Linked DNA regions of Homo sapiens. The protein of the gene in region 1 interacts with the protein of each later gene in a pairwise test. Each region holds a gene or a part of one and is shown in the gene's direction. Other genes may lie near its edges.

What was found.
Region 2: the proteins of ZNF330 (region 1) and PBX4 interact in binary tests that used the Homo sapiens proteins (3 or more experiments, as listed by UniProt).
Region 3: the proteins of ZNF330 (region 1) and CCN3 interact in binary tests that used the Homo sapiens proteins (3 or more experiments, as listed by UniProt).
Region 4: the proteins of ZNF330 (region 1) and NBPF19 interact in a two-hybrid assay, tested with the Homo sapiens proteins (one large-scale study listed by BioGRID).

The regions. Positions count from the first base shown.
Region 1 is NC_000004.12:141,230,868-141,233,095, forward strand, and holds part of ZNF330 (zinc finger protein 330), read left to right. Parts: intron 1-571; coding exon 572-618; intron 619-1,657; coding exon 1,658-1,775; intron 1,776-2,228.
Region 2 is NC_000019.10:19,608,669-19,612,245, reverse strand, and holds part of PBX4 (pre-B-cell leukemia transcription factor 4), read left to right. Parts: intron 1-3,577.
Region 3 is NC_000008.11:119,422,125-119,424,946, forward strand, and holds the end of CCN3 (CCN family member 3 precursor), read left to right. Parts: intron 1-711; coding exon 712-1,008; 3' UTR 1,009-2,310; downstream 2,311-2,822. UniProt on the Homo sapiens protein: Immediate-early protein playing a role in various cellular processes including proliferation, adhesion, migration, differentiation and survival. Acts by binding to integrins or membrane receptors such as NOTCH1.
Region 4 is NC_000001.11:149,548,037-149,551,613, forward strand, and holds part of NBPF19 (NBPF family member NBPF19), read left to right. Parts: intron 1-113; coding exon 114-286; intron 287-1,000; coding exon 1,001-1,109; intron 1,110-1,738; coding exon 1,739-1,911; intron 1,912-2,630; coding exon 2,631-2,682; intron 2,683-3,290; coding exon 3,291-3,463; intron 3,464-3,577.

The DNA.
Region 1 (2,228 bases):
ACACATAGTTTTTTTCTTGGAAGGTTCATTGAAATGAGACACCATATAAAACAATAGCATGTGGTACTTGGCATTTAAAAAGCCCTTTTTAAATAGTAGTTACTATTATAGGAAAAAGACCGAAATTCCCCAGGTATTCTCTTCCTTTAATTTGGTTCTTGTTCTGGTATGAAATCCTAATTATTATACTTATTTATAAATTTAAAGTAGATAAGTCATCTCTGTGATATACATACAACATACATACTACACACACATAGACACACAATGTGTATGCATGTGTATATAATTCTTGCAATATTTATATATAAAATTCTCAGATTAAAAGAGCATCTCGAAGTATATAGCATTTTTGAGCCTTTCGTCGCCTTTTGCAGAATGTATAATAATAAATTTAATTATTTTATTTGCAGCATGGGAGCTTTGTGTGTTTTATAGCATTTGAACCCAAAAGACAGGCAGCTGTCTATAAGGCTATATTCCATTGCAAGCTTTTAGTGATTTGATAAAAGACAAAAGAAAATTCTAAGAACCAAATAACGGGATTTTAAAATTAATCTATTTCCCACAGGTGTTTCATGCAATCGGCTTGGTCAGCACTCATGTCTCCGTTGTAAGGTATACCAATGCGTTTTTTTCTTTTTAGATTTTGTTTTTAATCTCTATACCCCTCCACCAGTCCTTGGCTTATATGCAGCTATAATTAATTTATAAGGGACCTTAAAATTATGTAGTCTAATTCTTTTATTTTTGAGACTGTGGAATTGAAGTTGAGAAAGCTTACATGACTTTCCAATGGTCATCCAGTCACCTTTTAGTAGAGCTGTGGCTAGTGCACATTTCTCTGGAATCCTGGCTCTGTGTTTTTAGTGGAGAACATTCTGACCAAGATGATGAGAGTCTATTTTAATTAATGTCAAAATATACCTGCTTAGAAGAGTTTGGGTAAAGATTTCCAAATTTTTCTGTGTCCTTAGGCCTAGTCTCTAGCATTCGTTCGTCAAAGATTACTAAACAGATGCAGCCAATGCCCTTCCTCTCAGAAGCGTTTCTCTAGTTCTTATATTCCTAACCCTATGTCTTATTTATCTTCCAACTCTGTTCTAGTTTTACCAAATGGTGTTCAGGCATTATCTGTGTTTTCTTTGTCTGGAATACTTTTCCATCTTGGCTTACCCTATTGCCCTCCCATTCTTCATATGGCTATTAAGACTTCGTGTCTCTAAGATGCCTTTCCCAAATCCCATGTCTGCTTTAGTGCCCTTCCCTCTGCACTTCCCGTTCAGTGCTTAGTGTCTTGTAATTGCCTTTTCACTGTCTCCATCCCTAGTTAGACCATACACTGTGTGAGAGTAAATAGGCTGTTCACCATTATTTCATTTCATCAGGGACCTTATGAGTACTGAAATATTTGTGAACAGCTAAATGTACTTACATGTCATACTCAATATAGTCTGCCTTTTGTTAGATCATTGTTCAGAAGGGTCCTGACAAAAACCATTTCTGTTAAGAAAATGAAATGAGAAGTGTGACTGCTCCCAACAAAATTGTTAATCTCACTGCCTTAATAAAGCTATATCTTTAAAACACTGAATACTGTCTTTTTGTATATTTTTACATTTTTATTTATTTACTTTATTTTGCTTCTCCTATACAGGCTTGTTTCTGTGATGATCATACAAGGAGCAAAGTGTTTAAGCAAGAAAAAGGAAAACAGCCTCCTTGTCCTAAATGTGGGCATGAAACTCAGGAGACTAAGGACCTTAGCATGTCAAGTAAGGCCCTTAAGATACTAAGGAAGTGATTTTTGCTTTCATACTTAGACAAAGTTTATCTTTTTTTTTTTTGGTCTATTTTTCTTATTGCCTCTTCTTATTTGAAAAGATGAATGTGTTCTTTTAAGCAAGTGGAATTTTACAGCTTAGGAAAATATGTGGGTAAAGTTTTTCAGTTTTACTTAAATAGACCAATATTCATTTTGATATTTGGTATTTGCCTTAGTTAATGACAGCAAATACTGAAATTTAAGATAAAGAGTGATTTTTTTTTATTTTTGTTGAGTCTTCCTTGTTAAATAGTTGAGTAGCTATAATTCCTTAATATTAAAGTGGTGGTAATTTTAAGTACCTAGAAGTCAAATTCACTCTGAAGCTATCTTAGGTGTGTGATATTTGAGCACCTATGTTTATTTATGTAATATAGCACTACTATAGGAAATTATTTTATGG
Region 2 (3,577 bases), on another chromosome or scaffold:
GGATACAGTGGTGCGATCTCAGTTCACTGCAACCCTCGTCTCATGGGTTCAAGCAATTCTGCCTCAGCCTCCCGAGTAGTTGGGATTACAGGTGTGTACAGGTATGCACCACCATGCCCGGCTTAATTTTTGTATTTTTAGTAGAGACACAGTTTCACCATGTTGGCCAAGCTGGTCTAGAACTCCTGGCTTCAGGTGATCTGCCTGCCTCAGCCTCCCAAAGTGCAGGGATTACAGGCATGAGCCACTGTGCCTGGCCTTAACATTTTTTTGTAGATACAGAGTCTCACTATGTTGCCCAGGCTGGTTTTGAACTCCTGGGCTCAAGCTGTCCTCCTGCCTCAGCCTCCCAAAATGCTGGGACTACAGTCATGAGCCATCCCACCCATTCTAAATGCTCACTGTTATAATGTTTTAGGAGCAAGCAGTGTGGTGTGTGAGATGGCATACCTAAAACCAAAAATGTATTTGGAAGTTGGTTTTAGGCAACCCAGCAATGCCTGCATAGGTTTTCTTAGGAAGAAAACATATCTCTGAACTTTTCTTTCTTTTTTTTTTTTTTTTTTTGAGACAGAATCTCACCCTGTCACCCAGGCTGGAATGCAGTGGCATGATCTCGGCTCACTGCAACCTCTGCCCCCTGGGTTCAAGTGATTCTCCTGCCTCAGCCTCCCAAGTAGCTGGGATTACAGGCACCTGCCATTGCACCAGGCTATTTTTTGTATTTTTAGTAGAGACGGGGTTTCACCATCTTGGCCAGGCTGGTCTTGAACTCCTGACCTCATGATCTGCCCGCCTCGGCCTCCCAAAGTGCTGGGATTACAGGTGTGAGCCACCATGCCCGGCCTTCTCTTTTTAATTTGATTTTTACTATTATGACCTCAACTAGTAGAGATTTGCATAACTTTCTTAGTCCCTCCAATATTTCTGCAGATTGACTTTGCCTAGATATGGATTAAATTCCTATTATGAAGGGGAGATAATGAAGTGATTTTGACTATCCTTTAAACTTACTGAAGAGGCAAGGTGTGAACTGATACCTGAAATGTGTTCCCCTAGGCTTGGTACTTTTGCAATAGTGAATATAAGGTCAGAACACATATACTTATAAAGTATGTATACTTATGTATGTTCTGACCTTATATTCATACATAGTTATAAAGCATGTCAGTGAGCATTCAGCCTTCCGCACACCCATTCAAAGAATGCAAGGGTTCTAGGGGGAATTTATGATGTGGAATTTCCCAGAGCCAGATAGCATTAGCATGAGAGGATCTATCAGTCCAAACCTGGGAAGTAGGATTTCATATTTAAAATTTTCTTTTTCAGTATCCCTAAAGAGATTAATTAGATGCCAGTTGACTTCGTGCCTTGTAGTCTTTCTTCTTAGCTTGCTTGCAGGCTTAGCTTGACTTGGTCTAGTGCCAGAGGAGTCTTGCTGTCTTTGGTGTACTTTTCCTAAGAGTTGAATTGTGTTGGTTTTTGTTGTTTGACACAGAGTCTTGCTCTATCACCCAGGCTGGAGTGCAGTGGCGTAATCTCGGCTCACTGCAACCTCCACCTCCCAAGTTCAAGTGATTCTCATGCCTCAGCCTCCTGATTAGCTAGGATTACATGCATGCGCCAGCCACCACACCCGGCTAATTTTCATATTTTTAGTTGAAACGAGGTTTCACCATGTTGGGCAGGCTGGTCTTGAACTCCTGACCTCAAATGATTATCCCGCCTCGGATTCCCCAAAGTGCTGAGATTACAGGTGTGAGCCACTTTGCCCAGCTTGAATTGTGTTGTTTTTATTTTTTTGTAAGTTTTTTAAATTTTTTATTGTTTTCGAGATGGAGTTTCACTCTTGTTACCCAGGCTGGAGTGCAATGGCACAATCTCTGCTCACCGCAACCTCCACCTCCCGGGTTCAAACAATTCTCCTGCCTCAGCCTTCCGAGTAGCTGGGATTCCAGGCACGTGCCACCACACCCAGCTAATTTTGTATTTTCAGTAGAGACGAGGTTTCTCCATGTTGTTCAGGCTGGTCTCGAACTCCCAACCTCAGGTGATCCGCCCGTCTCAGCCTCCCAAAGTGGTGGGATTACAGACGTGAGCCACCGTGCCTGGCAAATTGTGTTAGTTTTAAAACAATTCCCTGAAGCTATCTAAAAGTCTTTTGGCAAAATCCCCTTTGAAATAGCTTTATTAATGAAAAGTAAAGCCATGTGTAGAATTTCACAAAGGAGCAAGTACCACTCACTCATTTAAATGACAGCTACCGAGTGCCTCTATCAGAACACAGTGGTTGATGATGATGACAATAAGGATTTCCCTCATTTACCCCTCCCCAGAACCCTAGGAAGTGGGTGGTTTTTCACTGTTTGTTTTTCTTTCTTTCTTTAGTTTTTTTGAGACGGAGTCTCGCTGTGTCGCCCAGGCTGGAGTGTGGTGGCGCAATCTCGGCTCACTGCAAGCTCCGCCCCCCGGGTTCACGCCATTCTCCTGCCTCAGCCTCCCGAGTAGCTGGGAATACAGGCACCCGCCACCACGCCCGGCTAATTTTTTTGTATTTTTAGTAGAGACCGGGTTTCACCGTGTGAGCCAGGATGGTCTCGATCTCCTGAGCTCGTGATCTGCCCTCCTCGGCCTGCCAAAGTGCTGGGATTACAGGCGTGAATCACTGCGCCTGGCTCTTTTTTTTTTTTTTTTTTCATATGGATTTTTGCTCTTGTTGCCCAGGCTGGAGTGCAATGGCGCGATTTCGGCTCACCACAACTTCCGCCTCCCGGGTTCAAGCGATTCTCCTGCCTCAGCCTCCCAAGTAGCTGGGATTACAGGCATGCACCACCACGCCTGGCTAATTTTGTATTTTTAGTAGAGACGGGGTTTCTCCATGTTGGTCAGGCTGGTCTCCAACTCCTGACCTCAGGTGATCCACCCGCCTCAGCCTCCCAAAGTGCTGGGATTACAGGTGTGAGCTACTGCGCCTGGCTCTTCACTGTGTTTCTAGATAAGGAATCAAGTGGCCAGATAACTGGAGGGTAGTTGGATGGAGATTTGGGCATGCTCTATTGAACTCTGAGGCTGTACTGCCTGCCACCTGTCTCTGCTTTTCCCAGGGATCCTACAAAACTCACTTAAATCTGACATCGCTTCCTGCTCAGAGGAGCCCAGCTGATTGGGTGCCGTGGGAGATCAGACAGTCAGGCTCGGGCTTTACAGGACACTTTTAAAAGTACATTCTCGCAAATTAAATGTCATCTACTCAATAAACATGTATTTTGTGCCAGGTCTGGTGCTGGGCTTGGGAATGCAGCAGTGAGTTCTGAAAGGAGATTCATTATTTGGAGAGGCAGACATTGGAGAGTGCGGTGACACGGGGACCAGAGAGGGCAATGAGGAGTTAGCCCTTCAGCAAGACTAGAGCTTGTAGAGCATGGGCAATCAGAGTGCATGACTCTGGAGTCTAGGTGAAGTCAGGCGGGGGACAAGGAGCCTTGAGGAGATGGCCAAGATCTGGACTTGAGGCTTTGCCTAGGCAAAGAAAGTGGATGCGGCATTGTAGGCTTGGTGCAAGCATGCATGCAAGGCA
Region 3 (2,822 bases), on another chromosome or scaffold:
ACATCTTACATGGCAGCAGGACAGAGAGAGACAGAGAGAGAGAGAGAAAGAGAGAGAGAAAGGCAGAAAGAGAGAGAGAGAGACAGTGAGAGGGGAAGTGCCACACTTTTAAACCATCAGATCTTGTGAGAACTCACTATCACGAGAACAGCAAGGGAAAAATCTGCCCCCATGATCTAATTACCTCCCACCAGGCCCCTCCTCTGACACGTGGTGATTACAATATGAGAAGAGATTTGGGTATGAACACAGAGAACCAAACTGTATCACGTGTAAAAATCCATTTGGCTAAAAATGACACCAAAGCATGTTACAGTGTCTTAAAAGATAGGTTTTGTTATGCTTTCACCTGCATGCTCATCTCCTCAATGTCAAAAGACCATTATGTACAATTAGGCAAGGTGTTTACATTCCAGGAAGAAAGGAAAATGAATACAGGAACAATAAAGAATTGTACCTACTCAAAGGGCAAAGAATTTCCCAGATTCTCTTGGCCAGAACTTTGCCACAAGGTTATCCCAAGTCCCACATAGTCTGTGGAAGCAAATACTTTTAGCTGACTACATTGCTCAAGCAAAATTAATGTTCTGATAGCAAAGAAGAAAGACCAATAGATATTGGGTGGGCAACTAGCAGGTAATTCCATACTCTAAAATTGTCCCTCAGGGGAATGGTAGCCATTCAATACATCACTTCTTTTTTCTTTCTTAGAAAGGAAAAAAGTGTCTCCGCACCAAGAAGTCACTCAAAGCCATCCACCTGCAGTTCAAGAACTGCACCAGCCTGCACACCTACAAGCCCAGGTTCTGTGGGGTCTGCAGTGATGGCCGCTGCTGCACTCCCCACAATACCAAAACCATCCAGGCAGAGTTTCAGTGCTCCCCAGGGCAAATAGTCAAGAAGCCAGTGATGGTCATTGGGACCTGCACCTGTCACACCAACTGTCCTAAGAACAATGAGGCCTTCCTCCAGGAGCTGGAGCTGAAGACTACCAGAGGGAAAATGTAACCTGTCACTCAAGAAGCACACCTACAGAGCACCTGTAGCTGCTGCGCCACCCACCATCAAAGGAATATAAGAAAAGTAATGAAGAATCACGATTTCATCCTTGAATCCTATGTATTTTCCTAATGTGATCATATGAGGACCTTTATATCTGTCTTTTATTTAACAAAAAATGTAATTAACTGTAAACTTGGAATCAAGGTAAGCTCAGGATATGGCTTAGGAATGACTTACTTTCCTGTGGTTTTATTACAAATGCAAATTTCTATAAATTTAAGAAAACAAGTATATAATTTACTTTGTAGACTGTTTCACATTGCACTCATCATATTTTGTTGTGCACTAGTGCAATTCCAAGAAAATATCACTGTAATGAGTCAGTGAAGTCTAGAATCATACTTAACATTTCATTGTACAAGTATTACAACCATATATTGAGGTTCATTGGGAAGATTCTCTATTGGCTCCCTTTTTGGGTAAACCAGCTCTGAACTTCCAAGCTCCAAATCCAAGGAAACATGCAGCTCTTCAACATGACATCCAGAGATGACTATTACTTTTCTGTTTAGTTTTACACTAGGAAACGTGTTGTATCTACAGTAATGAAATGTTTACTAAGTGGACTGGTGTCATAAACTTTCTCCATTTAAGACACATTGACTCCTTTCCAATAGAAAGAAACTAAACAGAAAACTCCCAATACAAAGATGACTGGTCCCTCATAGCCCTCAGACATTTATATATTGGAAGCTGCTGAGGCCCCCAAGTTTTTTAATTAAGCAGAAACAGCATATTAGCAGGGATTCTCTCATCTAACTGATGAGTAAACTGAGGCCCAAAGCACTTGCTTACATCCTCTGATAGCTGTTTCAAATGTGCATTTTGTGGAATTTTGAGAAAAATAGAGCAAAATCAACATGACTGGTGGTGAGAGACCACACATTTTATGAGAGTTTGGAATTATTGTAGACATGCCCAAAACTTATCCTTGGGCCATAATTATGAAAACTCATGATCAAGATATATGTGTATACATACATGTATCTGGTTTGTCAGGCTACAAGGTAGGCTGCAAAATTAAATCTAGACATTCTTTTAATGCCACCACACGTGTTCCGCTTCTCTCTTTTAAAGTATTTATAAAAATATAAATTGTACATTTTGTAAAATATTATGTTTGATTTCTCTACTTGTCATATCACTAAATAAACACGATTTTATTGCTGCGTGACTCTGTATTACTTTGGTGCATAAAAGTTGAACATTGTTGTTTACTGAAAATAAAATTAAAATTTATGAATTAAATGAGACATCAATCAATAGCATCTATTGAAAGCAAAATGAGTATTTCTGGATGAGCTTACAACTTCTTATCAGAAGGGAAACAAAAGACAACTCAGTATTCCTGAGTTAGATGTTCCTCACCATCACAGCCTCAACTAGCCTCCACACTACTTACCCAGACCCTCATCTCAAGCCCTGATCTTTTTTTTTCTGGACAGCCCGCTAGACACCTCTGTATATTGAAATTTAAACTTGTTATCTGACCAAACAAAATTCAGCTCTGTGGCTTCCTCATCTAATCAAAGGGCATCCCATCCTCCCAATTGCACGGCTTAAATGGCCAGCACTTTCTTGATCAGTATTATCTTGCCAAGTACCCAGAAAAGCATATTTCCATTGATCATGGGGAATTGCGTGACAAACTGGGCTGCACACTGGGCAGAGTCACAGTTAATAGAAGTTTTGTGTTTGGAAGCTTCTTGCTGATGCAGTGTGGCTCTCAAGTTCTATAATTTGTAAGGAAAAATCTTTTC
Region 4 (3,577 bases), on another chromosome or scaffold:
ATCTATCCTTTTACTTTCTTAACCACTTCCTTATGCTACCCATGAAACCTAGTTGGGGCTCTGTTGTGTGTGATTTCCCCTGGCTTATTCTTTACTTTTTCCTCCTTTTCCAGGCTCAGCAGGGAGCTGCTGGAGGTAGTAGAGCCTGAAGTCTTGCAGGACTCACTGGATAGATGTTATTCAACTCCTTCCAGTTGTCTTGAACAGCCTGACTCCTGCCAGCCCTATGGAAGTTCCTTTTATGCATTGGAGGAAAAACATGTTGGCTTTTCTCTTGACGTGGGAGGTGAGTACCTTTCTATGAAGGTGATAAGCATCCACTGAGTCTTCCATATAAAGATCATATTCCTGCTCCAAGTGGCCATTACTGAGCTGAGAGATGTCATTGCCGCAGTGAGGACCTATAGGCACATGTAGGTTGAATGAAACTCTAGTTCTACCTGGAAGCCCAGACATGGGATGGGTCAGTGAGCATGGCTCTCTTCCTAGTCTCAGGCCATACCTGTGGCACTCTGATTCTACTCTCATGACATTGGACCTGGGCAGATGTGACAAATTCAGAGAACTATGATTTTGACTCAAGGGTTTGTAGATTTCCTTTTTCACTCTAATTTCAGTGTCTAAAGTCCTCACAACCATGAACAATCTGAGTATTTGATGAGACAGGGCTAAATATTGCAGTTTTTCTCCCAGAAATCATTTGAGGGTATTTGCTTTAAATTGATTGGAAAAATATGGCATAACTGTTTGCACAAACTTGGGACAAATGATATTGGGATAACGATCTACTAGAATAGGGACATTTTACCCACAGTTTCTGGGAGAAAAACCGAGGAATTTCTATCATGACCAGCCTTCAGGCCTCCTGAAATATATCTCTCACAGTGTCCTATTCTTATGCTGAGGAGCCTGAGGTCCCTGTGTGAGGATTAGACAGTGGATTGTTATGTGTGTAGGGGAATCAGCTTAATGTGTCTGTCCATGTCTGAATTTATTGCAGAAATTGAAAAGAAGGGGAAGGGGAAGAAAAGAAGGGGAAGAAGATCAAAGAAGGAAAGAAGAAGGGGAAGAAAAGAAGGGGAAGAAGATCAAAACCCACCATGCCCCAGGTGACTTTCAGCAATTGTGGATGCTTAATTCTGTGTTAACACCTGGAGGCAACAGATTCAGGGAAACCAGAGTGTGTTTGATGTCATGTTTTCAACGAAGGCTGAATTACTCCTACTGTCATTGCTGTTGGTTTTCATTGCAGTAGATGTTTAGGTTTCCATTTCTTCCTCCCCTTATCATTTACTAGCGTACCATAGGTTGACCATACTTCAAAAGCTGTACTCTCATGGCCACTGCATCGAATTTTGAGCATATTTTATGGAAAACTATTGAGCTCACTCTTTTCATGATCACAGTTTGCTGTGTGTCATGAGGGCACTAACTCAGAGTGTCCTTTTACTCCCTTACCAGTATGTCACCTGGCCAATTCACTAGGTCACTTTCTCTCTGTCTCTGTCTCTGTCTCTCTCTCTGTCTCTGTCTCTCTCTCTCTCTCTGTCTTTCTCTTTCATTGTTTTCTACCTGGCCCTGTTCTATCCCAACATAAAGGCAATAATTTGTTACCTCATTAATGGATCTGTCCTTTTTCTTTTCAAACTCTTCCTTAACGTTAGCCATGAAATCTAGCTGGGGCTGTGTGGTTTCTGATTCCCCCTGGCTTATTCTTTACTTTTTCCCACTTTTCCAGGCTCAGCAGGGAGCTGCTGGATGAGAAAGGGCCTGAAGTCTTGCAGGACTCACTGGATAGATGTTATTCAACTCCTTCAGGTTGTCTTGAACTGACTGACTCATGCCAGCCCTACAGAAGTGCCTTTTACATATTGGAGCAACAGTGTGTTGGCTTGGCTGTTGACATGGATGGTGAGTACCTTTCTATGAAGGTGATAAGGATCCACTGAGTCTTCTGGTTAGGGTCATATTCCTACTGCAAGTGGCCCTTACTGAGCTGAGAGATGTCATTGCCACAGGGAGGACCTATAGGCACATGTAGGTTGAATGAAACTCTAGTTCCACTTGGCAGCCCAGACAAGGGATGGGTCAGTGAGCAAGGCTCTCTCCCTAGTCTCAGGCCATGCCTGTGGAGCCCTAATCCTACTCTCATGACACTGGACCTGGGCAGATGTGACAAATTCACACAACTCTGATTTTGTCTCAATTTTGTAGATCTTGTAGATTTCATCCTTCACTCTAATTTCAGCGTCTAAAATCCTCGCTACCATGAACAATCTGAGTATTTGATGAGACAGGGCTGAATAGTGCAGTTTTTCTCCTAGCAACCATTTGGGGGTATTTGCTTTAAATCGATTGGAAAAATATGGCATAACCATTTGCACAAACTTGGGACAAATGATATTGGGATAACGATCTACCAGAATAGGGAATTTTACCCACAGTTTCTGGGACAAAAACCAAGGAATCTCTATGGTGATCAGCCTTCAGGCCTCCTGAAGAATATCTCTCACAGTGTCCTATTCTCATGCTGAGGAGCCTGAAGTCCCTGTGTGAGGATTAGACAGTGGATTGTTATGTGTGTAGGAGAACCAGCTTCATATGTCTGTCCATGTCTGAACTTATTGCAGAAATTGAAAAGTACCAAGAAGTGGAAGAAGACCAAGACCCATCATGCCCCAGGTAACTTTGAGCAATTATGGATGCTTAATTCTGTGTTGACACCTGGAGATGCCAGGTCCAGGGAAAACAAGAGTGTGTTCAATTTCATGTTTTCAACGAAGGTTGAATTACTCCTACTGACATGGCTGTTGGTTTTCATTGCAGTAGATGTTTAGGTTTCCATTTCTTCCTCCCCTTAACATTTACTAACTTACTATAGGTTGACCATACCTCAAAGGCTGTATGGCAACTGCATGGAATCTTGAGCAAGTTTATGGAAAATTATTGAGCCCACTCTTTTCATGATCACTGTTCGCTGTGTGTCCCGAGGGCACTAACTCAGAGTGTCCTTTGACCCCTTCATCAGTGTGTCACCCGGCCAACTCGCTGAGCTCACTTTCTCCTCTCTCTCTCTCTCTCTCTCTCTCTCCCTCTCCCTGTCTTTCTCTTTCATTCTTTTCTACCTGGCCCTGGTCTATCCCAACATAAAGGCAATAATTCATTACCTCATTAATGGATCTGTCCTTTTTCTTTTTAAACAGTTCCTTATGTTAGCCATGAAATCTAGCTGGGGCTGTGTGGTTTCTGATTCCCCCTGGCTTATTCTTTACTTTTTCCTACTTTTCCAGGCTCAGCAGGGAGCTGCTGGCTGAGAAAGAGCCTGAAGTCTTGCAGGACCCACTGGATAGATGTTATTCGACTCCTTCAGGTTATCTTGAACTGCCTGACTTAGGCCAGCCCTACAGCAGTGCTGTTTACTCATTGGAGGAACAGTACCTTGGCTTGGCTCTTGACGTGGACAGTGAGTACCTTACTATGAAGGTGATAAGCCTCCACCTGGTCTTCCAGATAGGGGTGATATTCCTGTTCCAAGTGGCCCTTACTGACCCGAGAGATGTCATTGCCGCAGGCAGGA